Regions from separate parts of the Homo sapiens genome. Here regions 2, 3, 4, 5, 6 and 7 are each reported to be linked to region 1. The links are microRNA targets in miRTarBase. Many come from high-throughput screens and were not tested one by one. Region 1 holds a microRNA gene; each other region holds the end of a gene's coding sequence.
What was found. Region 1 holds the annotated microRNA hsa-miR-103a-3p (AGCAGCAUUGUACAGGGCUAUGA, at 2,255-2,277, opposite strand). A microRNA usually pairs through its seed, bases 2 to 8, with sites in the 3' UTR of a target mRNA and lowers its output. Matches are read on the target gene's strand: a 7mer-m8 pairs with bases 2 to 8, a 7mer-A1 pairs with bases 2 to 7 and ends in A, and an 8mer does both.

Region 2: miRTarBase lists C2orf42 as a target of hsa-miR-103a-3p. Seed matches in the 3' UTR shown: 7mer-m8 at 622-628.
Region 3: the mRNA of AXIN2 is a reported target of hsa-miR-103a-3p. Seed matches in the 3' UTR shown: 7mer-m8 at 3,112-3,118, 7mer-m8 at 2,956-2,962 and 7mer-m8 at 2,733-2,739.
Region 4: the mRNA of RNF168 is a reported target of hsa-miR-103a-3p. Seed matches in the 3' UTR shown: 7mer-m8 at 559-565.
Region 5: miRTarBase lists NUP50 as a target of hsa-miR-103a-3p. Seed matches in the 3' UTR shown: 8mer at 1,084-1,091.
Region 6: miRTarBase lists RS1 as a target of hsa-miR-103a-3p. Seed matches in the 3' UTR shown: 7mer-m8 at 1,330-1,336.
Region 7: miRTarBase lists ARL3 as a target of hsa-miR-103a-3p. The part of its 3' UTR that is shown has no 7-base or 8-base seed match.

Annotation. Positions count from the first base shown.
Region 1 is chr20:3,915,592-3,919,817 of GRCh38, reverse strand. MIR103A2 (microRNA 103a-2) reads right to left here and starts at 2,324; the gene lies at 2,247-2,324. It overlaps PANK2 (pantothenate kinase 2), which reads right to left. Exons shown (of 7, transcript NM_001386393.1): 5 at 2,768-2,891; 6 at 1,022-1,147. MIR103B2 (microRNA 103b-2) reads left to right here and starts at 2,255; the gene lies at 2,255-2,316.
Region 2 is chr2:70,146,567-70,150,792 of GRCh38, reverse strand. C2orf42 (chromosome 2 open reading frame 42) reads left to right here. Exons shown (of 10, transcript NM_017880.3): 10 at 229-908. The coding sequence ends at 437. Among named protein-coding and RNA genes, the nearest start is that of LINC01816, 23 kb to the right of the region's middle. RefSeq lists an enhancer at 1,331-1,860.
Region 3 is chr17:65,526,603-65,530,828 of GRCh38, forward strand. AXIN2 (axin 2) reads right to left here. Exons shown (of 11, transcript NM_004655.4): 11 at 1,961-3,500. The coding sequence ends at 3,374. Among named protein-coding and RNA genes, the nearest start is that of AXIN2, 33 kb to the right of the region's middle. RefSeq lists enhancers at 1,309-1,603, 3,426-3,940, 3,941-4,226.
Region 4 is chr3:196,468,290-196,472,289 of GRCh38, reverse strand. RNF168 (ring finger protein 168) reads left to right here. Exons shown (of 6, transcript NM_152617.4): 6 at 1-3,507. The coding sequence ends at 471. Among named protein-coding and RNA genes, the nearest start is that of RNF168, 33 kb to the left of the region's middle. RefSeq lists a silencer at 1,907-2,083.
Region 5 is chr22:45,184,272-45,188,497 of GRCh38, reverse strand. NUP50 (nucleoporin 50) reads right to left here. Exons shown (of 8, transcript NM_007172.4): 8 at 481-4,045. The coding sequence ends at 3,843. All of the region lies in intron 3 of LOC105373064 (a long non-coding RNA gene), which reads left to right. Among named protein-coding and RNA genes, the nearest start is that of MIR1249, 15 kb to the left of the region's middle.
Region 6 is chrX:18,638,378-18,642,377 of GRCh38, forward strand. It overlaps RS1 (retinoschisin 1), which reads right to left. Exons shown (of 6, transcript NM_000330.4): 6 at 1,311-3,779. The coding sequence ends at 3,627. It overlaps CDKL5 (cyclin dependent kinase like 5), which reads left to right. Exons shown (of 18, transcript NM_001323289.2): 18 at 1-1,819. Among named protein-coding and RNA genes, the nearest start is that of RS1, 32 kb to the right of the region's middle. RefSeq lists a silencer at 2,287-2,456.
Region 7 is chr10:102,673,361-102,677,586 of GRCh38, reverse strand. ARL3 (ARF like GTPase 3) reads left to right here. Exons shown (of 6, transcript NM_004311.4): 6 at 646-3,856. The coding sequence ends at 693. Among named protein-coding and RNA genes, the nearest start is that of TRIM8, 31 kb to the right of the region's middle. RefSeq lists an enhancer at 3,233-3,782.

The DNA.
Region 1 (4,226 bases):
TCATATAGACTGTTAAACTAAATATGCAATACAATTCTGAAAAATGTTCATAATAACAGTATCTAAAATCCAAGAACAGTTGAAAGAATAGTTCAACTGCCCCACAACCAAGAAGGGAAGAAAGAACCCCTACACGCCTTTCCATACCTCTGCTTCTTTTTCCCCAAATAGGAAAAATAAGAGTGCTTTCCAAGACAGGCTATGAGGTTGAGCAATTTGATTCTTTTCCATTTCATCATTTCCAGCCTGTCTACAATTGTACTTAAGTTCTTATGATAGTATGGTTCTAGTCTGAGAGGTTTACTCATCTATTCATTTTTACAACATGCATCTTAAATAACTGGCACAAGAATTACAACAATATATAAAAACTGGCACTGAAAAAAATGAAAAAACCAGAACCCAGAGTAATGACACAGTCAGTGCAATAGAAAAAATATAGAGGATAGTTCAGACAAAAATATGGCATCAGAAATATAGGGGAATGTTCAAGGGTTTTTCTCTAAAATTCCTTAAGCTTACAATTAAATTAACCCAAAATTTACCTTGCATTAGTATCAGGGAAGAAACAGCTTTCAAATGTTACGAAATTAAACTACCAAAAAAGTTCAGGCACAGTGGTTCACACCTGTAATCCTGGAACTTTGGGAGGCTGAGGCTGGCAGATCACTTAAGGTCAGGAGTTTGAGACCAGACCAGCTTGGCCAACATGGTGAAACCCCATTTCTACTGAAAGTACAAAAATTAGCAGGGTGTGGGGGCGCACACTTGTAATCCCAGCTACTTAAGAGACTGAGGTGGGAGGACTGCTTGAACCCAGGAGGCGGAGGCTGCAGTGAGCCCCAAGACTGTGCCACGCACTCCAACCTAGGTGACAGAGCGAGACTCCGTCTCAAAAAAACAAAAAACAAAAGAAACACTGCAGCCCATTTCACCTCCACCCTCTACCTCAAGTTCCATGACAGTGTGACCCACAAGCCCTCTGTGTACATAATATACCACAACGAACAAGTCAGCTTACCTCGTGTTCCGAAAAAAGTGCTTTCAACTGCCCCTTGGACCAATAATCCAAAGCATATGCCAAAAGCCGCATGGCGATCGTATTAATTCTCAAGAAATTTCCAACAAATACCACCTGGTTAATGTTCTGAGCACACCAAAAAAAGGCAATTAGTTTTCATCTTAATTTCTATTTTCTCATAAAAGCTACCCCAAATACAGCACCATGTGCATAGCTCTTAGCAACAATTTGACTGCTGATCAAATTTAGTCCAGTTGGTCCAGGGCTACTTAAACTTGATCCCCAGACAACTCTGGACCCACTGCAAAGCATGCTAGATAATGTCACAGGAGAAGAAAACAGATTAGGAAAAACATTTGTATTAAATCTGACCAACAATAACTAGTTTTGAATACAATGTTTTATACAGATAAGTTAAAATAAACAAAAAAAAACAGTATGACTCCAATCCAAAAGGACAGTGACACAAACAGGCAAAGTATACAAGCAATATAACAGGCAGCGAAAAATTCAAACCACTAGTCATCAAACAAAAGTAAAATTTTAGACCTATTAACCTCGCAAAAAAAAGCAACTGAAATTCCACCACCACCATCAGTAGTTGTAGTAAAATTAATCCACTCATTCACCGCTAAAGATGATCTAAATTGGTGCAGCCCTTGTGCAAAGCATCATGACGATAAATGTCAAAATTCATGAGCATGATCATTTCTGTAGACCAGAAATCTCACTCCTAAGCCCCATATCAAGAATAAAATTCAACCAAAGAATAACTTCATGCTTAAAAATGCTTACTGCCGAGTTATGAGCAAGCAACCAAATGCCAAGCTCTGTTATTTGATATAAAAGAACTTGATCAAATAAATATACAACCATGAAATGTATATTTAAGTATAAAATACAAATTGTGGTATGCACACCAACTAAAATTTCTGAAAATACGTAAGCACAGGAAAGGGAACATACAATAAAGAAAAAAGAAGTTATGATATTCCAACAAATGTTTAATTACTTGATGCTGATACAGTATTTTTTTAATTTAAAATGAGACAAATCCTTTGTGTCTTTTGAGGTTTCCTTTTAAGCTACATGCCTATTATTATCTAAAGAATAACTTCTTAAAAATAAAAATAAAAGAATAATTTAACAACTATACACACAGGGACAAGCCATAAGCTGCACCAACTGGATCCTAGATCCTCTTTTCCCAAGGGCAGCCCATTCTTGGTTCTTTCATAGCCCTGTACAATGCTGCTTGACCTGAATGCTACAAGGCAGCACTGTAAAGAAGCTGAAAGCACAAAGACGCAGCTCTGCTGAGGTGGGGGAGCCAAGGAGGGCACCCCTCGGCCTGCTCAGTCTTCTCCCAGCTTCCGTGACTTCCTCTGGATTCCTCCCTAGGGCCTCTAGAGCTCAGCAGTGAGTGTGGAGTCTACATTCAGCATCGTTATCCATCATCACCCCCAACAGTCCCCAATATCTGGAACACTGGCTACCTTCCACTCTTCCTCTACTTTCTCCTCAAAAGATGTCATTTTACCTCTAGACAAGTAGCAATGTTTATCTTCAGTTTAAAAAAAAAAAAAAGAAGATTAATCTGTATTTGAAGAGTTTTAACTTCGTGCTAAAACAAACCCCACCCCAAATGACTACATTTAGGCACTGTTCTGAGAAAACAGACGTGATGGGGCCCACTTAAGTTCAGTATTTTCCTTAGAGCAATTAAAGAAATCCATGTCCCCTTACTTCATTAAGGGCACACATTCTTGCTATTGAGCCAATGTTGTTGGTGATGGTGATCAAAGTCGCTCTGGCCAGGTCCTCTTTACTGACAGCCTCTCGCTTCTCCTTGCTCATCATGTTTCCAAAGCTGTGATGGGGGAAAAAAAATCCCATTGCTAAACCAACAGCAACAAAGCCCAACAGAACTTGAATGTTACTTTATTGAAATAAAATTAGCTTTTAGGGCAACATTGTTGAAATCTTCAAACCTTTTATTTTGCAATGGAGCATCTGTTCAAAGAGAAATGCAAACTTCAAACAGAGCCCTCCAACATTCTAAATGAGCAGACAGCTTTCCCTGCGGTTTCTACTGAAATCTAGCTTGGATACCAGATATTCACATATTCAGTTAGAATCTCATCAGATGCACTGGAAGGCACCATTGCTCCTGCAACCAGACAGTTCCAGGACAACACCTCTAACAGCAATTCATCTCAACTGCACAGCTGTTCCACTCAGATGGCCACATGCACATCTGGTAAACTGCTCTATCAGAGCAGAGTAAAGCACAGACAGCTGAGTCCCAGAGTGAGCTGCTTAAGAATTTCAGGTTTCCCTAGAAGATAAAGTACTTCAAAGTACATGCTCAGCAGAACTGCTACAATAATTTTCCAATCAGAAAAGGAAGTGATGACCAACGAGCAAATGTTACAAACAGAAAATCAACAGCATTGACCAAGTGCCTAAAACTTAGTAAACAAGCATGTATACATATGATTTTTCTATTAGTAAAAGCCATGTGCCCCAATATACGAAAAACAATTGTACTTCTAAACGATCTCAAAATGGAGACAATGATTTCATTTATAATAGCATTAGAGAATAAAACACTTACGGATATATCTAACAAAAGTATTAACACCTGTACAATAAAATCTACAAAACACTGCTGAAAGAAAGCAAAGATCTAAATCAATGGGAAGACATTCCATCTTTTTGGATCAGAAGACTTTGTATTAGGATGGCCAAAAGATTCAATGTAATCTCTATTAAAATCCCAGTTGTCTTATTTACAGACCTTGCCAAGTTAACCCTACAATTCATATTCTCAAGGTACCCAGAATAGCCAAAATAATCTCGAAAAAAGAACAAGTTGGATGACTCACACTTTCTTACTTCAGAACTTAATACAACGCTACAGTATCAAGGCAGTATGGTACTGGTATAAAAACAGACATATATATCAATGGAACATAACTTAAGAGTCCAGGAGTAAACCCAAACATCTATGGTCAACTAATTTTTGACAAAGGGGCCAAGAGAATTTAACAGGGAAAGAATCATCTTTTCAACAAATGGTACTAGGACAACTGGATATCCACACGCAAAAAGAAATGAACTTGGAGCTCTACCTCACACCATACACAAAAACTTACTCAAAATGGATCAAATATAAGAGCTAAATATAAGAGCTAAAACTGGC
Region 2 (4,226 bases), not on the chromosome of region 1:
GCCTGGGTGCCAAAGCGAGACTCCGTCTCAAAAAAAACAAAATAACCCAAAAACTTCATGATGATCAATAAATCTGATATCCCAATCACCACTGAATTTATAAACCTCATTCGGCCTTCTGATTATCAAAGCTGAACAGGCTGCTCCAATTCCGGACACTTTTTTTGCAATTAGGAACACCCATTAGAGTTAGGTGGAATTGTACTAATACTCCTTTCTTCTCTTTAGGCAACACTTCCCCAGATCAAAAGGAGCCAACACCTTTCATCATCGAGTGGATCCCAGATATCCTTCCCCAATCTAAGATTGGCGAGCTGCGGATCAAGTTTGAGTATGGCCACCACCGGAATGGGCATGTGGCGGAGTACCAAGACCAGCGGCCCCCCTTGGACCAGCCCTTGGAACTGGCCCCTCTGACCACTATTACTTTCCCTTAAAGCAAAACAAGATAATAATCTTTTGCTGCTTAATTTGCACATCCCCACCCCTTGACAACTTTAAATGCTAGTTAGGCACTTAGATGGCCCTGTTCCTTGGTAAACTGCTCTTAGCTAAGATGCAAATTCTCAGTGCTTTCAAGTGGATTCTGTTGAAGAAAATCTCTTGTAAATAGCCTTTTTGATGCTGCTGTGTACAGTCTTCATTATGCATTGGGCAGTATTTCTGGCTAGAGTTTTAAAAGGAACAGAAAGAAAACCAGCTTATTTTCCTTCTTACGGACTCATCTTTAGCGTTTATTTCAACCTTTTGCTAATTCTCTGAGAAATCTGCAGCACTCAGCCATACACCAACAGTGTTGGAAAGTTAACACCCTGGTTAGGGCAGAATGTTAAAGACCATCTTGGCAGAGTTCCAGCCACGCTCTTTATTCTGTTCTCAAATAAAGCAGTGTCACTAGTTTTTCCTAATTATATCTCATGGTTGCCTGTTTATAAAATTATAAATTTCGGGGGGGGGAGGCGGGATTTAACTGATAGTGATACTGGAAAAAGAGATCCAGGTGTGTCCGGAATTGGTGGGTTCTTGGTCTCACTGACTTCAAGAATGAAGCCGCGGACCCTCGCGGTGAGTGTTACAGCTGTTAAGGTGGCGCGTCTGGTGTCTGCCCCTTCTGATGTTCAGATGCGTTCGGAGTTTCTTCCTTCTGGTGGGTTCGTGGTCTTGCTGGCTCAGGAGTGAAGCTGCAGACCTTCGCGGTGAGTGTTACAGCTCTTAAGGCAGCGCGTCTGGAGTTGTTCATTCCTCCCGGTGGGCTCGTGGTCTCGCTGGGCTAAGGAGTGAAGCTGCAGATCTTCGCGGTGAGTGTTACAGCTCATAAAAGCAGCATGGACCCAAAGAGTGAGAGCAGTAGCAAGATTTATTGCAAAGAGCGAAAGAACAAAGCTTCCACAGTGTGGAAGGGGACCCGAGCGGGTTGTCAATGCTGGCTCTGGCAGCCTGCTTTTATGCTCTTATCTGGCCCCACCCACATCCTGCTGATTGGTAGAGCCGAGTGGCCTGTTTTGTCAGGGTGCTGATTGGTGCGTTTACAATCCTTGAGCTAGATACAAAGGTTCTCCACGTCCCCATCAGATTAGTTAGATACAGAGTTTCCACACACAGGTTCTCCAAGGCCCCACCATAGCAGCTAGATACAGAGTGTCGATTGGTGCACTCACAAACCTTGAGCTAAACACAGGGTGCTGATTGGTGTGTTTACAAACCTTGAGCTAGATACAGAGTGCCGACTGGTGTATTTACAATCCTTGAGCTAGACATAAAGGTTCTCCACATCCTCACCAGAGCAGCTAGATACGGAGTGTTGATTGGTGCACTCACAAACCTTGAGCTAAACACAGGGTGCTGATTGGTGTAGTTACAATCCCTGAGCTAGATATAAAGACTCTCCACGTCCCCACCAGAGCAGCTAGATACAGAGTGTCGACTGGTGCACTCACAAACCTTGAGCTAAACACAGGGTGCTGATTGGTGTATTTACAATCCCTGAGCTAGATATAAAGACTCCACATTCCCCCCCAGACTCAGGAGCCCAGCTGGCTTCACCCAGTGGATCCCACACTGGGGCTGCAGGTGGAGCTGCCTGCCAGTCCTGCGCCATGCGCTCACATTCCTCAGCCCTTGGGTGGTCGATGGGACTGGGCACTGTGGAGCAGGGGGTGGTGCTCGTCAGGGAGGCTCGGGCCGCACAGGAGCCCATGGAGTGGGTGGAAGGCTCAGGCATGGCGGGCCGCAGGTCCTAAGCCCTGCCCCGCAGGAAGGCAGCTAAGGCCCGGCGAAAAATCGAGCGCAGCGCTGGTGGGCCAGCACTGCTGGGGGACCCAGTACACCCTCCGCAGCCACTGACCCAGGTGCTAAGTGCCCCATTGCCCGGGGCCAGCAGGGCTGGCTGGCTGCTCCGAGTGCGGGGCCCACCAAGTCCCCGCCCACCGGGAACTCCAGCTGGCCCGCAAGCGCCGCACACAGCCCAGGTTCCCGCTCGTGCCTCTCCCTCCACACCTCCCAGCCTTGGCCAGCCCAGAAAGGGGCTCCCACAGTGCAGTGGGGGGCTGAAGGGCTCCTCAAATGCCACCAAAGTGGGAGCCCAGGCAGGGGAGGTGCCGAGAGCAAGCGAGGGCTCTGAGGACTGCCAGCACGCTGTCACCTCTCACAGGTATCAAGGGAATATTGCTGTTTAAAACTAATGCCTGTAATAGCTTGTTCACTTCATACTTGTATCTCTATATATTCTCAGTTAGTAAAATTCAATTGCTGTTTCTGATTGAATGATCACAGAATAGAGATACTGAAAGACCCAGAAGTATAAGCCTATCTTTAAGGAGGAAAGAAGGGAATGAACATTTCTTGCATGCCTACTATGTGCCAGGTACTTTCTTTGTTTTTGTTTGTTTTTTGAGATGGAGTCTCACTGTGTCGCCAGGCTGGAGTGTAGTGGCGTGATCTCGGCTCACTGCAACCTCCGCCTCCTGGGTTCAAGCGATTCTCCTGCCTCAGCCTCCCAAGTAGCTGAGACTACAGGCACCCGCCACTATTCCCAGCTAATTTTTTTTATTTTTTTTTTGTATTTTTAGTAGAGACGGGGTTTCACTATGTTGGCCAGGCTGGTCTTGAACTCCTGACCTCGTGATCTGCCCTCCTCGACCTCCCAAAGTGCTGGGATTACAGGCGTGAGCCACCACGCTCGGCCATACCAGGTACTTTGAATTGCGAGTGACAGAAAGCCAGTTAACCAGCTTGGGCAAAATAGGTATGAATGACTGGCTTGTGGACACTAAAGCAGAGCTAGACAACCACACTGGGCTGGAGCTGATGTGGCTGGGCCTCGGGACCTGTGGAGCTAGGGTCCATCTGACCCATTTCTGCCTCTCTCTGGGGCTTCATTTGATCTCAGCACAGAGCAGCTCCCCTAGTAGGAATTCTGGCTCCTGAAGTGCCTGAATGTATGGCTTCCTCACTGGAGCAGGACTCACTGCTCCACTCTCTGATCCAAAAGGCAGAACCCCTCCCAGCCCCCAAAAAGGCACTGATTGGCCTAACAGAGGGGGAGACATTTTTGGTAAGAGAGGTACTATGCCTCTAAAAGAGAAGGAATAACCACATTGTGTTGTCTACCCTCTGGGATTGAGGGGCTGGTTTGTGTCAGCTCCTAAGTGCGTCAGACAATAGGGAAAATTGTTGAGAATCCAGGGAGGTGCACAGAGACCTAGAACTTGAATTGGGCTTCAAAGGAGAGGAAGGGTTTGGATAGGTGGAGAAGATAAAACTAGATGAGGCATGCCCGGCACAGTGGCTCATGCCTGTAATCCCAGCACTTTGGGAGGCTGAGGTGGGCAGATCACAAGATCAAGAGATTGAGACCATCCTGGCCAACATGGTGAAACCCCGTCTCTACTAAAAATACAAAAATTAGCCAGGCGTGTTGGCGCGTGCCTGTAGTCCCAGCTACTCGGGAGGCTGAGGCAGGAGAATCGCTTGAACCTGGGAGGCAGAGGTTGCAGTGAGCCAAGATCGCACCACTGCACTCCACCCTGGCCATAGAGGCGAGACTCATCTCAAAAAAAAAAAAAAACAAACAAACAAAAACTAGATAAGGCAGAGGCTTGCCTGAAGAGCAGGAACACCCAAGGAAAGACCGTGGTTGGCCATCCTGAGAAATCCTTCAACCTGAAAACTTGGAGGACATCAGTCACAGCTTTTTCACAAAACACACCTGTGGGTGACAGGCAGAT
Region 3 (4,226 bases), not on the chromosome of region 1:
TCAAGACCAGCCTGGCCAACATGGCGAAACCCAGTCTTTACTAAAAATACAAAAATTAGCCGATGTGGTGGCACATGCCTGTAATCCCAGCTACTTGGGAGATTGAGGCACGGGAATCGCTTGAACCCAGGAAGCGGAGGTTGCAGCGAGCTGAGATTGTGCCACTGCATTCCAGCCTGGGCAACAGAGCAAGACTCTTGCCTCCAAAAAAAAAAAAAAAAAAAAAGTTTAAAGATGAAAACAGGGGCCAGGTGCAGTGGCTCATGTCTGTAATCCTAGCACTTTTGGGAGGTCTCAGGAGTTTGAGACCAGCCTGGGCAACATAGCAAAACCCCATCTCTACTAAAAAAATACAAAGATTAGCCAGCCGTAGTGGTGGGCGCCTGTAATCCCAGCTAATCAGGAGGCCGAGGCCTGAGAATCGCTTGAATCCAGGAGGTGGAGGTTGCAGTGAGCCGAGATTGCGCCATTGCACTCCAGTCTGGATGACAGAGTGAGACTTTGTCTCAAAAAAAAAAAAAAAAAAAAAAAGAATGAAAACAGGAGATAGAAACATGAGTGATCAACTAGTCCAGTTCTCTCTCACAAATGCACCTTAGAAGATGCCAGAAACCCGCTCATGGCACCCAGAGGGTGGTGGTGCTGGGCCTTCAGTCCAGTTTGTCTGAGGCCCAAGCCCCAACCTCATCACTCTCCTCAATCAAGAGGCCTGAAGATAGAGATGAAAAGCCATCCACAAACCCCAATCTTCACCACACACAATAGGTTGCATCTCTTCATCCTTTTGTCTTGGAAAGAAGTTTACAATTCGGAAAGTGTTGGACACCCTGGTATGAACCCCCATTCCAGCCAGGAGGGGAGGGCACAGCACCTGCATGGTTAGGGACAAGTTCAAGGCATCAGAGCTCCTCCAGCCTCTTGCCAGATGCCCTCACATCCTCGCCTTCTCAGAGGGTAACTCAGGACTCTCCCAGCAGCCTTGACAACTCCTACTACTGCCACCACTCCGAGGCTACTGGGTTCGAGTCCATCCCTACCCCGCATGGCCAGAACCCTGGCCTTTCTCTATGCTGCCGGCCTGACGCCAGTTGGCAGCAGGAAGAACAAGCCAAGCAGATCCACTGCAGACCACCGAGTTCATTTCATGAAAACTCAGCACACAAGAAGTCAAGTCCAACTGCAGTTACAGATCCTCTGTTTTTAAAAAGGGTTCTTCCTAGGACTCCACTAAAAAGACCTGCTTTCCCAGATCTAAAGTATGGCCTGGCATGCAGGCCAAGTGCTCAGGATACAGGGAGGGCACGTTTGTTGAGCGGGCAACTGCCTGCCGAGGTCCTTGGCCACATAAGCACACCTGTCCACCGAGCGGTGCAGAAGCTGCCTGTGTCGCCTCCTCCTGAACCACCTCCTTGCTATGTTCCCGACACCTGACCGGCCCTGAGCCTGATGGCTCACGATAAAATACTGATAGGATTAATAGTCAGCCTTGTTGATCAGCTCCCAGAATGGGGAGGGTGCCTGGCTAGCTTTGATCTCTAAGTCCATTGGCCCCACGTGGACATTCCAGGTCTATGAAACCATCTGCTGAACGGCTTTCATGTCGGAGACACCTGTTGAAACTCCTGGGAGGGCCTCCTCTCATCCCCTGGTCCCCTGCACCTACCTGGCCGGACTGGAGACAATCTGCCCAGGAGGAAGAGGCTGAATGGAGGTGTTACAGGGAAGAGGACCCCCAAAGGAGATGTCATCTACAGCCTGCTCCAAGGCAAGAAAAGCCTCAGCCAGTAGCCAGGTGATTTGAATAAATGGCTTTACAAAACCTCCAGGTGGGTCCAGATCAGGTCAGGGCTCAAGGTCAGAGACGGGCTTGGGCAAGGTAGGAAATCAAGCACAGATGTCTACACACAAAAGGGCCCCTCGGCCCTGTTCCCACCCTGGGGATTCAAAGACGAGGCCAGTGTTTTGAAAAATATAAAATTTTAATAAAGGCTACATCTCTTAATTACAATAATTATTGTACCAAGTAATTTTCCTTAAATGAACTCTTTATAATGCATAATTTACAGTATAAGTAGAACAAAATGTCATGACAAAAGTCATTGAGTACAAGACTTGTAATAAAAAGGCATAAAATATATTTATACATAAACCCCTTTCAAAAAACAAGGGAAAGCTTGAGCCCTCAATATAGGGCGACACACGGAGCGGGTGACCGTGCAGGTACAGGTACTGTACTGATTTAAAGTCAAGCACTAGAGATAGTGGATTAATACTCTTTTGCCGTACACTATATACAGATGTATAGTACAAGTAACAATGGCAAACAGAATGTACAGATTAACTTAACACAAAAACCCGAACATCAAAATGAAGGTGTGTGGAGGAAAGGTGCTGCTGGGTCTCCCTACAACTGTTCATTTCTTTGTGGGGCAGGGGGTAGTTCCTGAATGGCTGTGGTCCAATGACTAATGTAAAACAAAAACAGAAACAAAAAAAACAAGGAACTGTCATTTCCACGAAAGCACAGCGGCAGTGATTCTAGCAGGCCTCAGGGCCCTGGGCCTGGGGAGGCTACATGAGGGGGAGCCTCAGTCACAGGATCAACCTGGGGCCCGAAGGAGCAGGGTTCCCTGCCTCTCCCTCTGCAACAGATCATCCCATCCAACACAACCCCCAAAATGTTGATGATGACGCAACATGGTCAACCCTCAAGACCTTTAAGACAAAACAGAGCAGCATAGGAAAAAAAAAAACAAAACGCACCAATTTCTGCATGTGTCAATGGTAGGGCACCATTTTAAAAAGTCTGTCTAAAACAGTCTGTCTTCACTTGGAGGGACGTAGTGCAAAGCATAATTCCTCTGTTAGTGAAGAAACCATGAACGCACTCCTAGCTCAACTCCTAAGTTTAGTCAGAACAATTAAAACTTCCTGTCTCCCCCTTCCAAGTTTAAAGCAGCATATCCATAAACTGGGGATGGGGGAAATCAACTGTTCTATAAATATCAGTAAGGATTCCTGTTCAGGTAAGCTATACACAGTTTCTCTTAGTTTATGGATTTCAGATCCCTAGGAAGTCATATATTATGTATGGCAGTCTCTCAAATACAGGCAGCATCTTCAATAGCCAAGAGTGGTCATGTTTTTAATAAATAGTTCAGGCTTTTCTTATCTCAGTCAGTACCCAGCTCATGAATCATGAAAATCAACCTCCCCCCGCCCTCCCGAAGGCCCACTGGCCGATTCTTCCTTAGACTTTGTCTTCTTCATTGGTTTAATTTTCCTTCAAAATGTTTTGTCGCAGTTGCTCACAGCCAAGACAGTTCACAAGAGCTTCGGGCTCCAACAGTTCACCAAAGCCAGACCCCAGGGCTCAATCGATCCGCTCCACTTTGCCCAGAATCCGGCCTTCATACATCGGGAGCACCGTCTCATCCTCCCAGATCTCCTCAAACACCGCTCCACAGGCAAACTCATCGCTTGCTTTTTTGAAGTAATACCTTAAAAGGAAAACCAAAAAAGCTTCTTGGTAAACTGCATTTTCCACATTGTTGAAAAGAAAAGCATACCAACATGGAGGACTGAGGTATCCTAGGAATTTGCTATGGCAGGTGTGCCTGTACACTGTTGCGCACATCTGCTTTAAGACGGCAGCTGGGACTGGCCACACCACAAGAAGCAGGTGGGCCGAGATGATGAAGGCCAGGCACCCACTGAGCAGCAGCCTGGGCTGGGCCTGCCACCTGCAATCTTCAACCCAGCACCTCTGCTGTCTCCTGACACGTATACACTGTGAAAAGCAGAGCTGCTTTCCCCCCGCCAACCTTTTTCAGCAGTGGGGTGGGGGAGGGAAGGGAAGGACAAATGCCTGCAGTTCCTTTGCAGCAGGAGCCAAGCAGGTCCTTCAAAGAGACTCCAGACTATCTCCAGGTTCAGCCATCCTGAACCCATCACACCTGGAGAGCCGGAACCTGCCGAAGTCTGTAAAAGGCTGACTTCCAGATGGTTTAGCAGTCCAAAGGCCTCTCGGCCTTCCCATCCTCCAGGTCCCAAGTGCAACACTCCTGGATGGCCCTGGCACAGCCACACAGGAGGCAAGCCAGCCCAGCGCAGCTTCCCAGGGCCGAACAGACGGCACTGGCCCCATGATGCCCTCCCCTCTTCTCCCCATTTCCAGGCCTCTTCTCCCATCCCATCCCTCCAGGGTCAAACACCAAAGGCCCTTC
Region 4 (4,000 bases), not on the chromosome of region 1:
CCAGATCAAGAGGAAACAGAAATAAACTTTACCCAAAAACTGATAGATTTGGAGCATCTACTGTTTGAGAGACATAAACAAGAAGAACAGGACAGGTTATTGGCATTACAACTTCAGAAGGAGGTGGATAAAGAGCAAATGGTGCCAAACCGGCAAAAAGGATCCCCAGATGAGTATCACTTACGCGCTACATCCTCCCCTCCAGACAAAGTGCTAAATGGACAGAGGAAGAATCCCAAAGATGGGAACTTCAAAAGGCAAACTCACACAAAGCATCCAACACCAGAGAGAGGCTCAAGGGACAAAAATAGGCAAGTGTCTTTAAAGATGCAGTTGAAGCAGTCAGTTAATAGAAGAAAGATGCCAAATTCTACTAGAGATCACTGTAAGGTATCCAAAAGTGCTCACTCCCTACAGCCTAGCATTTCACAGAAAAGTGTTTTTCAGATGTTTCAGAGATGCACAAAGTAAGGCCTGGTAAAGGGAGTGCTTTGTGATCTAGTAAAGCTGGAATGTGAAGCTCTTTCCTATCATGGAATCTTCATCCATGTGTCATTCATGCTGCTCTCTAGGCACACTCATTGTCCTTAATGAAGGTCTGTGTGATTGTAAGGACTGCATAGACACATGAGCTTCTGCACAGCTCAGCGGTAAGCAGGGGTCCCCTGTCGTTTCCCTTCTTAATAACAGATGTGTATTAAGCTTTACAATTCTTAGAGATATCTTAAGCTTTGGCCAACTCCAGGAAATCTTCAAGTGCCATTGTCTTTCCAAAAACTGCATGTTTTATGGCCTTTGCTCACCTTTTTGTCGTGACTGGTAATCAAAGCAAGATTATACTATTCTGAGTGATTAAGGAACCCATGCAGGGTTTAAAATCCATTTTCTTGCTATTGTCCAATGTTTACAGAGTACTCAAAAGGTTTTCCTAAAGTAATCTAATTTCCATCTCCAATTTAATTCAATTTTCAGCATTGTAGCATTTCCTTTGGTGTTTGTTTTTTTTTTTTAGACGGAGTTTCAAAATTTGGATTCATATTCATATGTGGGAAATCCCAGATTTTTTTTTTTTTTTTTTTTTTTTTTTTTTTTTGGAGACAGAGTCTTGCTCTGTCACGCAGGCTGGTGTGCAATGGCGCGATCTCAGCTCACTGCAACCTCCGCCTCCCGAGTTCAAGCGATTCTTCTGCCTCAGCCTCCCGAGTAGCTGGGATCATAGGCATGTGCCACTACACCCAGCTACCCAGCTAATTTTTTTTTTTTTTTGTACTTTTAGTAGAGATGGGATTTCACCATGTTGGCCAGGCTGGTCTTGAACTCCTGTCCTCAGGTGATCCACCTGCTTCGGCCTCCCAGAGTGCTGGGATTATAGGCGTGAGCCACCACGCCCGGCCTGTTTCCTTTGGTTTAAAGTGGATTCGAATCAGTGTTAAATCAGAAAATCAGGGTTTTCTAGGAAATTGGGAATTAGTTGCCAGAAAGGAAACTGAACTATGCAGAAGGAGTTAAGAGCTGGGATGAGGCTGGATGGGGTGACTGACAGTCCAGATCATTGAAACAGATTGGGTCGTCGGAAACTGGTCCAGATGAGGCTGGATGGGGTGACTGACAGTCTGGATCATTGAAACTGATTAGGTCGTCAGAAACGGGTCCAGACGAGGATGAGGCTGAGGCTGGATGGGGTGACTGACAGTCTGGATCATTGAAACTGATTGGGTGGTTGGTCAGAAACGGGTCCAGATGAGGATGAGGCTGAGGCTGGATGGGGTGACTGACAGTCTGGATCATTGAAACTGATTGGGTGGTTGGTCAGAAACGGGTCCAGATGAGGATGAGGCTGGATGGGGTGACTGACAGTCTGGATCATTGAAACTGATTGGGTCGTCAGAAACTGGTCCAGATGAGGCTGGGTGGGGTGACTGACAGTTTGGATCATTGAAACTGATTGGGTGGTCAGAAACTGGTCCAGATGAGGATGTGGCTGGATGGGGTGACTGACAGTCTGGATCATTGAAACTGATTGGGTGGTCAGAAACTGGTCCAGATGAGGATGTGGCTGGATGGGGTGACTGACAGTCTGGATCATTGAAACTGATTGGGTGGTGAGAAATGGGTCCAGATGAGGATGAGGCTGGATGGGGTGACTGACAGTCTGGATCATTGAAACTGATTGGGTGGTGAGAAATGGGTCCAGATGAGGATGAGGCTGGATGGGGTGACTGACAGTCTGGATCATTGAAACTGGTCCACTATGACGCAGCAGGGGCAGTTTGGCAGAGCATCCTCTTCCCTTGTCCTTGTGAAAGAACACAGGAAACATTTGGGTTTTACAGCTTTTCACACCCTACTATCAGGCATCAGAATCAAAATTAGTTACTAAATTGGGTGAATTTTTGGAAACCTGCATTTCTATGCATCTGCTATTCCAGAAAAAAATGGGAATGTATTACAGGAGAGTTACCTCACAGTGTCTTATGTTGTGGAACCTGAAACATAACCACGTGTTTTCTTATATGATCATTTGTGTTGATACTGCTTTTATTTGAGTTTATGAACAGAAATAGAAAGTATGGTGCTTGGGTTTTGCCCTTTCTTACTCCTGAAAGTTAAATCAGAAGACACTGATTTCATTTTGTGAAATTTAGCTCAGAGACTATTGATCTTTTGTTTCATTAATATGAACAACTATTAGTAAAAAATAGCTTTAACAGCATTTCTGCTGATATCTAGTAATCTATTCTTTTAATGTGAAAATAAGATAAAATGTCCTGGAGCTAATTCTAGCTTAAATTTGCCAGTATTTCTGTATGTCATTAAGTTTTTTTCCTCTAAGGTTGGTAATAGAATTTTGTTAATCTTTGCATACCTGATGGCATCTATGTCAATGCTGATTGGGTAATTATAAATTCTGTGCTAATTTAAAACTTAATTTGCCTCTTAAGGTGATTGTCCTCTGAGTAATGATTGTAGTTAAATGAAGTATAGCTTGCAACTATACTATCACATGGGTCGTTAAGTAAAAATAAATAAACCAAATTTGTCTGAGACAGGCTAAGATCAATCTTCTCATCAAACCAATTTTTCTCTAAGAGCAATTTCACTTTCAGTTTTAGGGTGGACATTCTTGAATGCCTCAAATTAAACGTTATCTATTTAATCTTCCTGGAATAGTCTGTGACCAAAAAGGAGGGTGTGATATATTTAGGTGTAAATATATCACATATATGGTGTGATATATTTGGGATTTATATATTCAGCTCATTCTCTGTGAAGAAGTCTTCCTGACTAAAATTGGTTTCAAGATAAACTAATTTCTGTTAGTATTTCTACTCTGCCTACCATGTATGCCTTTTTGTTAGAAACTAATAAATGTATCAGTCACTAGCAGGTACTGGTCCTTTTTCCTCTCATTTTTGTGGAAAGGATATGCAAACACTGAATTTCTCAGGGAGTACTAAGGCTGTGCAGAGGCTGAGAATCTGAAAAATAAAATACTAAAAATAAAAATGGATTATTATGTGTATTTTACCACAACTTAAAAATATGTAAAAATCAGCTACATGAAAATTAAAAGTTCTGCATAACAAAAACTACCATCAAGGGAAATTGGAAGCTGTGGCAAACTTGGGAAGAAATAGTTGCAGTTCATCACAAAGAGCTAATTTCCTTTATGTAAAGTATCCTCCAGTTCATTAAGAAAAGACCAATAACTCGGCCGTGCATGGTGGCTCACACCTGTAATCCCAGCACTTTGGGAGGCCGAGGCAGGCAGATCACCTGAAGTCAGGAGTTTGAAACCAGCCTGGCCAACATGGGGAAACGCCGTCTCTACTAAAAATACAAAAATTAGCCGGGTGTGGTGGCGTGTGCCTGTAATCCCAACTATTCGGGAGGCTGAGACAGAGAATTGCTTGAACCCAGGAGGCGGAAGTTGCAGTGAGCCAAGATTGTGCCACTGCACTCCAGCCTGGGTGACAGACTGGAGACTCCGTCTCAAAAA
Region 5 (4,226 bases), not on the chromosome of region 1:
TGTCATTTAGTTTCTATTAGATGTTAACGGTTCAGGAAAATACTTTGATGGATAACTTAAATCTTTGCAATATTATTTTTTTAAACCAGAAAATACCCCTTATAAACCAAATAAATGCTGAGTAACATAGGAAAGGTTAAAAAATAAGTCTCAAAGGTTTGCTTTGAGGACTAACCAAGGTAATACATATAAAGCACCTAGCCAATGCTTTGCACACTAGCCCATTAAGGATCAATTGTTCCCATTCCAATCTGTTAAGATTTTAATCCAACAGAAACCCTTGGTCTGAATGGTTTAAAAGTAGTCTCGGCCCCCAACAAGGAGTCTGATAATAAACTGGTCTCTCACTCACCTCCAAGCTGACCTTCCTGTTGTTCAAGGAAGTTTCCGGTTGCAGCTTCTGCGTTGATTCTTCTTCCTCAGGTCTGTCTGACTTGTATTAATGCCAAGTGCATCACAGAGGAACATAAGACTCACACATTGGGATTTTGTTTACTTTTCATTTATTCACATTTCATGGATTGTTACACTTCCTCGATGGGAGCATTCAAAAACTAATACAAGCTGAGATTATATTGTCTGACAATTCAAGTATTTTAGTTTTAGAAAACAATTTCCTATTTAAAGTAAAAAGCAAACAATTTATCCATCTGATTGCTAAGAAGTTTTACATCTCCATTACAATTGTGTCTGCATCAAACGGAGAGTCCTTCGTCCTCAGTATGATTGTTACTGGCTGAGAACATACGGTGACCTGTGTTCTGAGTGCCTGCTTGGAAAAGACCTCCCTGTCATCTGCCATACTACGGGACAAATCAGTATCTACTCAAATTCCCACTTCCAGAATGAGAGGACTCATCAGGGGTTTAGGAGTTTGCAAAGCCTTCAAAATGTATCGTGCTTGAATTTTGACTCTTCTGAAATAGAATAACTGACAAATGCTCAAAAAACAAACTTGTTTAACTTTTACTGAAAAGGCTCTCAGTGAAAACTTGTTTTGAACTCTACTAGTAAGGTAGAATATTAGTTTTTCTTCCCCTCCACACCAGAAAAGGCAGTTTTCTCTTTTTTTTTTTTTTGGCATGCAGCATATATAAAATGTGATCTAGAATTGAAATTGTAAAACAGAATAATCCTCTTAAAGAAAATCAGCCTATGAACAGTCAGACTTGTCCTTCCATGGAAAACATAATCTAAACTTCTTTAAAAACTGGCCATATTTTTTCAGTCTGTAATTCGAATAATGAAGATGGCATAACAAATTTTTTTGCTTACTAGGAATGCGCAAAAGGATGAGATGGATACACAGGTTTTAAAAAAAAAAAAAAAAAGGCCACTGGGATATTTAGTATTTGTCCAGATGCAAAACAATTTCAGAATAACAAAATACACACCTTGCTTTAGGCCACGTATATGATACACTTCATAGATTCTCAAACAAAAGATGAAAATTTCAGTCCACATTAAACATTTTAAAGCATAACTTCTAATATTTTGTTAAAAATAAGTCAAACTAAACGCATAAATCAGAATTACCTGTTAACATAGTGGGGAAAGTAGGGAAGCCCTCCAGGGGCCCCGTGCCCCAAGTAAAAGACAAGGAGTTAAATTTTACAATGAAATCCACGTATACTCAGGCTCTTTACACTAATAATCAAAGTGGAGACCAACCAGTTCCTAAAGCATAAAAGAGTGATTTTAAGAAAATATCACATTTTGAGTTACGGTATATTCATCACATTTTTCCCTGTAATTTTCACTTTAACAGTGATAGTCTTAGCAGCAAAAATTTGCTGGGAATGTTAGGAAAAAAGGAAGCCACACATACCTACTAATTTAAAAATATATAAACTATTTTTTACAGAAGGGCAGGTTTAAAAGAAAATCCAATCATGATCTTTTCATGCCATTTTTTGTCAACTTTCCATACACACGCAGACGCTAACAAAGTACTGTGTCATATACACTGAAGTGTCCTGAAGATGCCTGTGAGCTGCTGATTCCAGCTGGTACCAGGGAAGCATGTGTGGCTAAGTTGCAACAAACTTAAATTTGTTCCCCTTAGTTCTTCATCTTTTTAAAAGCTGAATAAACTTAATGTCAATCGGGTGGGGCCGGTATTAACAGCATCAACCGCTTGCTTACTATGAATCATCCGCAACAGAAACCCACGTGCATTCTCCATTCTTAAAAAGTCAGTGTAAAACTAACGGCCACTTCCTCCCTAGGTGCCTACTATCGCTATGTCTGACAGCATCTGTAACAGGACAAGCTCACCTCTCTCTACACGGATTCATCCAAAGCCACACACTAGGCCAAATTCTCCCAGTGGAATCAAAACACTGGAAGTAGAGCAAGAACCTCATGCCAACATTGGCCCAATCACACCTCAGTGACTTAGGAGTTCATCATATTTGATCATAAAATTGCTCCCGGCGCCAAACCTTACACCTAAAGACTGTAGTTTTAAAAAGCCACTGTACCGTCCACAATTATTCTGACCACTCTTTTCTAAATGGAGAATGTGCTACGCACTGAAGATCAGAACACACACGCGGGAGCCCTTGGGCACTGACCCTGAGCCTGTACACAAGATCAGCTGGTACTAGTCTCAAATGATTCATGAGGACTCAGTGGAAATTTAAACATTCAATTCTGTGTATCATTCATGTGCCCAGAGTCTTCAAAGAATGCTCGTGTTAGTTACCTGACACCTCTGGAGAAGTGACAGGGATATTCGTGTGAATAACCATGGCTCCCTTCCAGACAGACATATGGAATCTTACTCTTAAAAAAGTAAAGATATTTCAGATATCAAATGTATTATAATATACTGCGGTCTAAAGTTAAAGGCAAAGTTTACACACGATTTTCTCTTCCATGACTTTATTACATGTTTCCTAGTGAATTCACACGGCTCGTGTGTCAAAGCTCCCAGGCACGTCACTTGGTCACAGTTTTCATGTGCGTGGGGTTGATCATGGTACAAATGCCTATGCGCATCTTTTTCTCGGATGGTCTCATTTGACTTTCATTTCGTAAGGGTTCACTCTCCATGGTGTAGATGATAAGCTACCACATTTGTGCTTTTAAACCCATTCCTGGCAATCCCCCTTTATCTTCATTTTGTCTTTAGGGGGATAAAGAAGTAACACTACCTCATGAATAGAAACTATGAAGCCAAAAAACTCCTTCACAAGCTGTTCATTTCTTTTTAGAATGAAAATGCAGGTCCTGAATTCTCGTGAAGCAGCCCACAGGGTTACAGGCCAATGATTCGAACGCTGAGGTGAACACTTAGTACTCGCATTTGAGCTTCAAAGTAAAAATAAAGCAGAGGACAAACGCCTGTCACAGCGTGGCAGCCCGGTTCATTTGGTAACAGAACAAGTCTCACACGTCGGCTGAGCCCACCGGAGAGAAGCACACAGGCCAGCTTCCTTCTGAACACAGCCAGGCACCTGTTCAAAAGCCTCTCTCGTGGTGGCGGTGGACCCCAAAACCCACGGGTTGGAAGAGCCTTTGGGAAAGCAAATTGATACCCTGATTGCAGTCCTTGAAGAAATCACTTAGGGTTAGTTTAATAAACGAACATTAAAAAATCTTCCAAAAATTGCATTCAAATGTATTTTACACTTTAGGCAGTTCTTAAGAAGGGAGAGTGCAGTTTCTTGACACTTAACATTTAAAGGTTTTATTGGCCACATTAATCTTCCTCACAAAAGTTTTAAGTTATCTATAAGTTCTTAGAATGTCAAAGAAGAGAAGAAAAACTGACTAACTTTAAGGGGCGGTGGAAGCAGCAGCAACTTGGCAATAATTCTGCAGCCGACTTTGCGTGTTCAGGCATCCTTTTTCTCCAGTAAAATTTTGTGCAACTCGTCTGCATCCTCGCTGGTTTTTACCCGAATCAACATGGTGACTGGCATGGTGGCATTCTTCTCGTCAATTGGTGGATTTGGAACACAGACGATAAGAACGTTATTCTTCCCTGTTCGCGTACATGGCATATTGGGTGGAATCAGAACGTTCAGCAATATGTTGCCTGCATTCAAACAAACAAAACCCATCAAAATTATAGAAGCTATAGCTCCACCAAAGGAGTCTGTAATATGCTAAACATTAAATGCTGAAATAACTTAATACATCTAAGACAGGGAGCCAACAGGACAGCACAAAATCAGGACTGGTTCCCTGAGAACTGGGAGGCCTCGGGGAGCACTTGC
Region 6 (4,000 bases), not on the chromosome of region 1:
CTAAAAATAAAAGTAAATATGTTAAAATAAGGTAAGAGTGAGTTTTTCCTACACTATGTATAATTTTTAATTGAAAGTTTCCCCCACAAAAGAAATGATACTTGGAAGCATAGTTTGTGTGTTTGACAGCAAGATTCTATTAGGCTTCAGATTTCCCTCAATAAAAGTTTTAGTTTTTATACATTCTGTCATGAATTGAATGAAGTAAATAATATGCTGTTGTAAGCAAATTATCTGCAGATAAATGTCTTATGAATCGTATATCTTACTGTTTATTAAATTCTGAAGTATTGAGCAGTTTCCAATGTGAAATCCCAGCTGGCTTCTTTGCAATGATGGACAAGTTAGTTATAATTCATATGGAAATTCAAGGAACCCAGAATAGCCAAAACAATCCCGAAGAGCAAAGTTGGAGGACTCACATGCCCCAATTTCAAAACTTACTACAAAGCTACAATAATGAAGAAAGTGAGGTAATAGAATTTGGAGTCCAGAAATAAACCCTCTCACATTTATGGTCAATTGTTTTTTGACAAGGGTGCCAAGATCATTCAATGGGGGAAAGAATAGTCTTTTCAGCAAATAGTGGTGGGACAACTGGATATCCACATGCAAAAGAATGACGTTGGACTCCTATTTCACACCATATACAAAAATTAACTCAAAATGGAACAAAGATCTAACTGTAAGAGGTAGAACTATAAAACTCATAGAAGAAAACATAGGGGTAAATCTTCATGACCTTGGATTTGGCAGTGGTTTCTCAGATATGACACCAAAGGCACAAGCAAAGAGAAAAATAAATTGGACTTCATCAAATATTTAAAATTTTGTGCTTAAGAGGACTCTATCGAGAGGGTTAAAAAGATCCACAGAATGGGAGAAAATATTTGCAAATCATATCCAATAAGGGAATTAGAATATACAAAGAATTCTTAAACTCAGTAAGTTGTAAGCCGATTTAAAATGGGCAGAGGATCTGAAAAACCTTTATCCAAAGATGTACAAATGGCCAGTAAACACATGAAAAGATGCTCAACATCATTAGTCACTAGGGAAATGCAAATCAAAACCACAGTTGAGATGCAACTTCACACATTATGGGTATAGTCAAAGATGGACAGTAACAAGTGTTGCTGAGGATGTGGAGAAAGTGGAAGCCTCCTACATTGCTGGTGGAAATGTAAAATGATGCAGCCACTTGGGATAATAGTTCCTCCAAAGATTAAACAAGAGTGACTGTGTGTCCCAGCAGTTTTACTCCTAAGTATATACCCAAGATAAATGAAAACACACATCCGCACAAAAACTTATACACAAATGTTCATAGCAGCATTATTCATAATAGCTAAAGAGTGGAAACCCAAATATCCATCAATGGATGAATGGATAAATAACAATGTGCTCTTGACATGATACTGAACAATGATGTTCAGCAATAAAAAGGAGTGACAAGTGACATAGTGATACACATGTTATAACGTGGATGAACTTTAAAACACTATGCTAAGTGAAAGAAGCCAGTCACGAAATACCACATACTATATGATTTCATTTATGTAGAACGTCCAGAAGGCCAATCTACAGAGACAGTCGATTCGTGGTTGCAGAGGGCTTGGGGTGGCCGATGGGTTGGGGAGTGTTGGCTGATGGGTGCAGGATTTCTCTTTGGGGTGATAAACTTTCTAAAATTGATCTAGTGATAATGGTTGCACAACTCTGAATATACCAAAAGTCATCAAATTGTACACTTTAAATGGATACAAATTGTATGTGAACTTAATCTCAATAAAGCCGTGACAAAAGTTTCCAACATGAACTCTTATTTGGAAAGCCTTTCTCCCTGCCTCACTGTTTCCTCCTCTCCTTTTTCCCTGAACTGCACTCTCTCGACTCCTGTGTTTGATGTGCCTTAACTCTTAGGATACTGCCATTTTGTCTGACAGTCCATGTCGTGACCAAAGTTAATTCACCTTTCCAAATAAGGGTCTCTGTTCAGGCATTTCTATCCAAAATAGATTTGTCCTGTGTCCTAAGGCCAGGGATAAGTCCCCCCACCCCCCCCCCCCACCCCCAACACCCTGTGTGATGTGTTTATATTTGAGAGAAGATTGGGCGGGGAAAAGCATTTTCCGAAGTTCAAGCATACAGCATAGGGACTAGAAAGATGCTGGGTTGGATATAAAATAATTGAGCCCCCAAAGCATCAAGAAGGATGTTTGGGGCTTTTAGAAGGCTGCCTGTTCACAGAAAAGGTGAATGTGTTGTCCAGCACTGTATTAGCGCGAGTCTAGTCACTTGCCTTGGCATTTGAAAATGAAAAGTAACTCGGAAATGAGCTGCTAGCAAAGACTACCCTGTGTCTGGGGCCAGAACAGTCTTTAGAGCAGCCTCGTCCTCTGATTCCACCACCTGCTCTCCATATCCCTCTCCTGCCCCTCCCCCGTGTTAACAGCCTCTCCCAGGAAGGGGCCTGGAAACTCAGGCTGCGCTCTAAGTGGCCAATGAGGCCTCCCAATCTAAGGCGCCGCCTCCAGGAACGGAAAGCCAGGCCCATTCCTTCCCAGAGAGCTTTTCAGGAGCAGGCGCAGTTTGCGTATTGCAAGGCAGAGGGTGGAGGGTGAGAAGCTTTCAGGGAAAAAGCTACATGGTCCTTTTTATGATGTGAGTCCTTCCCACTTCCTGCGAAGCATGTAGCCAGCTAATGAGCCTCCTCTGAGTAGCCAGTGGTAGCTCCTGGGCCAGCTGTTCTCGAACTATGTTTGGTTTGCTAGGAAATGGTAGCCCTAGGTAAAGGGCAATTGTACTGTGTTGTGGTCATTTGGGGTCCCTACATATACTGAGATGTGCAGCCTGTCCTGTATGATCACCTAAATGGTGACCACAGACACGGGGAATTTGCTGGAATGGATTGCATAATGGAGCTGTGTGTATTGGGCGCTCTGGTCCCTCCCCAATCCCTGTGTTCATGAGGGTGGAAGCCCAGATCCGCCTTGAAGGTAAGAACTGTGAGCAGAGGAAACTCCCCTACCTTGGGCTTTTGGTCATTTGTCACGTATAGCCTCTCAGGGCACCGGGATTCTCACCCACCGCACTCATCCCTGCCACCCAGTCACCCTTGAGACCCTCAGCTGCCTCCCCAGGGCTCTGAAGTCCTCTTTGGCGATGATTTAGTGGAAACTTAACTAGGAGGAGCTGCTCCCTTCTGCATTCAAAGCCAGGCTTTAGGAAACTGTATGTTTCTGTCTTGAATGTGGTAAAGCAAATGAATTTTCAAATTATCAGGGCTGCTTTGTGTTCCCCTGAGACTGCACCTTTCACAGTATCACTGAGACAAAAAATGAGCAGAAAATTACCCCTGCTACTTAGGCTTTTGTAAGAAAATTCGTTTCGGGGACATTTTCTTTGTTCTGACTTTCTCTGGCCCTGAGTGGGGAATAAGTTCATTTTTATTTCATTGAAATCAGAAAGCTATATCTTAAAAAAAAAAAAATTATCTACCCAGCACTGCAGTTACAATTGCTTTGCGAAATATAGCCCTGTCCATCTCGGTGGTGTGTGAGGGGGTCCCCTACGGCCCGCTCTGTGCCAGTCACCCCCTGGCAGGCGCCGAGCTGAGGCAGGCATCAGGCACACTTGCTGACGCACTCCAGCAGCTCCATCCGGATGGCAATGCGGACGTGCCAGCCCAGCGGGATGAGGCGGATGAAGCGGGAGATGATGGGGGGCCGCAGCAGGTTCTGAACCGTGGAGGTGCGGTCCGAGTTGCCATAGAAGACCTAGAGAGATAGAGGAAATCCTGTCACCATCACATCGGGGAGGGAAAAGGAAGAAGGGTTCCTTTCTGGAGCTAGCCCCAACTTTTAACTATAGAAATGATTAGGAAGTAGTTAAAGCAGTTTGCGGGTGCCCCCCAAAATCTGACCTTGAGTGATTGTCATCACACCTACATGCTTGGGACATCTGGAACTGCACCATCCAATAGGGTGGCCACTAGCCA
Region 7 (4,226 bases), not on the chromosome of region 1:
GGGCGCTTTCAAGGTCATTGTGCCTTTAAGGGAACCTTCTCCCCAGTCCCTCTGGATGCTGGTGCTTAAAGCTATAAGAAGCGGGCCAGACCCTTTTAAACCTATCTGGAGTGCTGCAGGAAGAGAAGTAAATGCACATCGCCCTGGTGTGTGCCTCGCAACACTCACTGCAGTAGGTTTGTTTTTCCAAAAAGAAATTTAATTTAACCCAAGTGTACACTGTCACACTGTAAACACATGGGGCACCAAAAGGGTGGCTTATTGAATTTAATGCCCTGGCAAAGGTCACCTTTTAGAAAAAGCCAAAAATGGCTGGAATCTTTCCTGATAGCTCTTCAGTCAGGCTTTGGATGCAGGCAGATGTGTTTATTTTTTCAGAGGGAGTTCCTGAGGACCCATCTCAAGTTCAGGCGCTGGGCATCCCCCTCCCATCGCCCTCTTGTGCTCTCAGAGACCTCCCTCCTCCTCCTCCTGGGAGGTCACTGTCCCTGGTCACCCAGGTGGGCCCCTGAGCCAAGCAAACTCCCTAAAGCTGGCGGTCTGGGAGGGAGGGCCTGGGACCCCCACTGCCCGCCCCTCCAGGCTAGAGTGTGTGGTGCTTTTCTTATAACTAACACTGCCTTTCTCTGCCCATTTCCCTCAAAGGATGGCATGAACTGGGTCTGCAAAAATGTCAATGCAAAGAAGAAATAAAATCTAGACGAATGGAGATGCAGGAGCTGCGGGAGCCGAATTCGGTCCTGAAAAACACTAATTTGCTGCTTTCTGACCAAATGTTTTTCCATCTGTGTACAGCTCCAGCTGTTTGAAGAGAGGGAACAACACGGTTTAGAAAGAATCCCCATTCCAGCAGTAGATTTAACTGATCTCTGAGGTTCAGTATCATTTTTCAAATAAAGGAATTATATTATTTCCTCTGCATAATTGAAATAGTATTAAATGTCTCAAAGCACATGATTAGAAAATGAGATCTTTTAAATGAGCAAGAGATTGCATTGCAGTTTAGACAATTCCAGTGGGCTTTTTTTTCCTCTCAAAAAAAAAAAAAGAAAAAGAAAAAGAGGAAGAAGCAGCTTTGCTGAGTTCATTTATTTACTGACCCGTCCCTTGCATTCCCTCCATGGTTTTGAAACCACAGACAGTGTTTGCTGGTGCTGTCAGTGATTTTTACCGTCACTAGCCCAGCCAGGCTTCAGTCTGTCCGACAGGAAGCTGCTGGGTGGGGGTGGGGGGAGAAAAGGCAGATAATTAAACCATCTCATCGTCTTGCAGGTCGGAGACTACGTATGTAATCCTCACTCTTTGGACAGAAAAAAAAAAAAAAGTCTTTCTTGCAGACAAGTCACTACAGAAACATACCCCATCCCACCCACCCCTGCCTCTGCCCCAGCCAGCCACACAGAGAAGCAAATTCTTATGACTTTTGACTGTAATGACATCTGGAATGTAAGGAGAGGTGGGAGGTTTAATTCCAGAAAAATTACAAGGTCCTTAAAAAGCTCTCACATCGAGGGCTCAGGCTAGCGTAAACAGGCTTTCTCCAGCTCAGTGGAGCAGTGAGCAGCCGACTCTGAGATTAGCTGGCTTCTCCACGGCCGTCCTATAGACAGGATTTCTAAAGCTCAAAGAATTCTGTGTTTAAACGATCACAATAGGCCGCTGCTATCAGATTTTAGAAATAAATGCAGCTTTACCATGAACCTGCTCCACTGAGAAAAGCCAGGCAGATCGATTTTTAGATCAATTTTTACAGTGCTGGCAACTTGGTGGTGTGGGATGCTCCTGGATGGAGAGGGTTTGCTGCTGGGGAGGACATGGGTGTGTGTGTGACTGCAGGGGTCGTGTCCAAGGAATCAAGAGTCACCCCAGCTGCTGGGCTCCTCTGCCTCTCTGCAGCAGAATGTCCGTCCTCTGTTGATTGATTGGAGAGGAATAGCAGAACATTTCTCCTGCCCCTCGTTGCAAAACGAGCTTGTTTCCCTGAACCTCAGAAATCCTCAGCTTCAAACATGGGGAAACAGGCCAGAGCATTGCCCGGCTCCTGAATTAAACTCTGTTCTGGTGCCTGAGCTCAGGGGTTTTCAGAGAATGAATAAGAGACTGTCCAGTGACTGGTGGGTCCCTGGGGGCCAGCTGCCTTCTCATCCTGGGAGGTGGCCCTTCCCAAGCCCATCAGGGCGTGTGAGCAGACTGAAGGGGCCGCTGCAGCCCCTGGCCCTCAATACCCAGCTGCTTCTGGCTAAGAGTGCAGCAGAGACTGAGGCATAGCCAGCTTCAAAAGCGATCTGACATGAAAGTCATTAACAAAGCCAGCCGTGAAAAGGTGCCCCAGAGTTGCTGTGGACAGACCTGTAAGGACTTGCAAAACAAAAGAAAGTGAGGGGTTTTTTTAACCTCAGAGCTAGCTGCTCTCTGCAGCCTCCTCCACTGGCTTCTCTGGCTCACCCAAGCTCTCCCTTACAGAGGCAACACAGAATTATAAGGAATCAGAAATCCCCCTTCTACCAGGCTGCAAATGTGGCTCTAGCACTTGCAAATTGTTTTTTCTTCCGAATAGTTCAGCAGGGACAAGTTATCTGAGGGGCAAAATGCCTGCTTGGAGGTCTGCAATTTTGGAACACTGCAGTATGGAACTTTGGCATTGGAGGGTCTGTAAAATATTTTTGTTCTTTTACCACCAACTTAGGGGACTGTTTTAAAGAGCCATCCCAAGGCCTCTCCTAGCAGGCAGAAGCCACTCCTCTGATAACGGCCTCTGTAAATGTTCTGATTTGCTCTCAGCTGCAGAGACACAGAGACACTGCAGATGTCACACGCTTTCATCTTCCCTTTGAGCCCTTTTGAACCCTCCTGGGGCTCTGGGGTAGATGAGAGAAGCCTGAAAAAGGCAGAGTTTGAAAGCTCCCATTTAAAAACAAAATACTTTTTAAAGCCCTCTTGCCTCTTCCCTGCCCACTCCTGCCCCCTGACCAGAAGACAGAATTTGAAGCTGGAAAGGGAAGACCCCTTTTCCCCTCCTCCTGTCCCCAGTGAGTCTTAGCGAGACTTTTGCCCTGCGCACAATTGCATCTGAATGTGCGGGGGAGAGGGCTGGGGGCCGGAGGGCAGGCAAGGCCTGGGGGGTGCTCGTGATATGTGCTCAAGCCAGTTGTGGGAAAAACTCGAGTCCTCCCCTCCTCCCGACCTACCCCGTGTGGCTGCTTTTGGCTGGATTCCCTGCACCCAGTGCAACACACCCTTTCCCCTTCACTCTCCCTTGGTTACTATGGAAACAAGGGTGTCATTGATGTGGGCTGAGCTGGGGAACATGTCGGTGCACAGCTGAAAGTCAGCGATTATGCCGGCGGTTAGAAATGTGCCAGGGTTAAAGGAGTCCGCAGCTCCCACGGCTGCTGGGAGGACATGGTCCTGCCCCCTTCCTTCCTCCCTCCCTCCGTCTCCACTTCTCTCTCCTTGCTTTTGACAAATTTCTTTATTCCCCTCTGGACTAAAGTAGTGGCTATTTTTGTGCCACTCTGCGCCCCACCCTCACTGTTGGCCGCTCCTTATCCGGCCTGGCCTGGAGGGTGACACCATGTCACCCTCACCAGGACTCGTCTCTCCATTCCCGTCAGAGTTTGCTTTGATTTCCCTTTCCTTTCCTTCTCGGGGACCAGTTCTTACTTCCTTTTATTTTTAGCTCTGCACTCCATGTGGTTTCAGGGTTCAGTCTGATCCATCAAAAGGTTCTTTTTTTATAATCCCTTTTGAAAATGATAATCAAAGGAAGAGATGTGGTGTTTGGTCATGTGGAAAACTCAATGTATAATTTAGACGTCTGTCAAAAATCCGACAAATAAAATTTAGCTGGAACGAAGGCAGCCTGGAATGTGTTGTGTTCTTTGCTGAAGCTCAGAGAGGGCCTGAAATGTGTTTGTCCTTTCAGGGGTTAGCTTTCTTCAAGAGGTTTTTTCCAGAAGGATATATATATAAAATAGGATACCAACAATAGCAATAATAGCCCTTCATTAAGCCCCTCCTACGTGCCGGGCACTTCAGATACATCGTGGTGAGCATTAGTCCCCCTTTGCAGCAGAGGACATTGAGACATTTGCCCCAGTTAAGGAATTTGCCTGAAATCACAGAGCCTTTAAGTGCAGGTGGGGCCTGGAGCCTGGGTCTCAATGCTCAGCAAGCTGCCGCCTCTGGAGAACAAAAACAGTCAATGGCAAGGCCGGATCACGCCT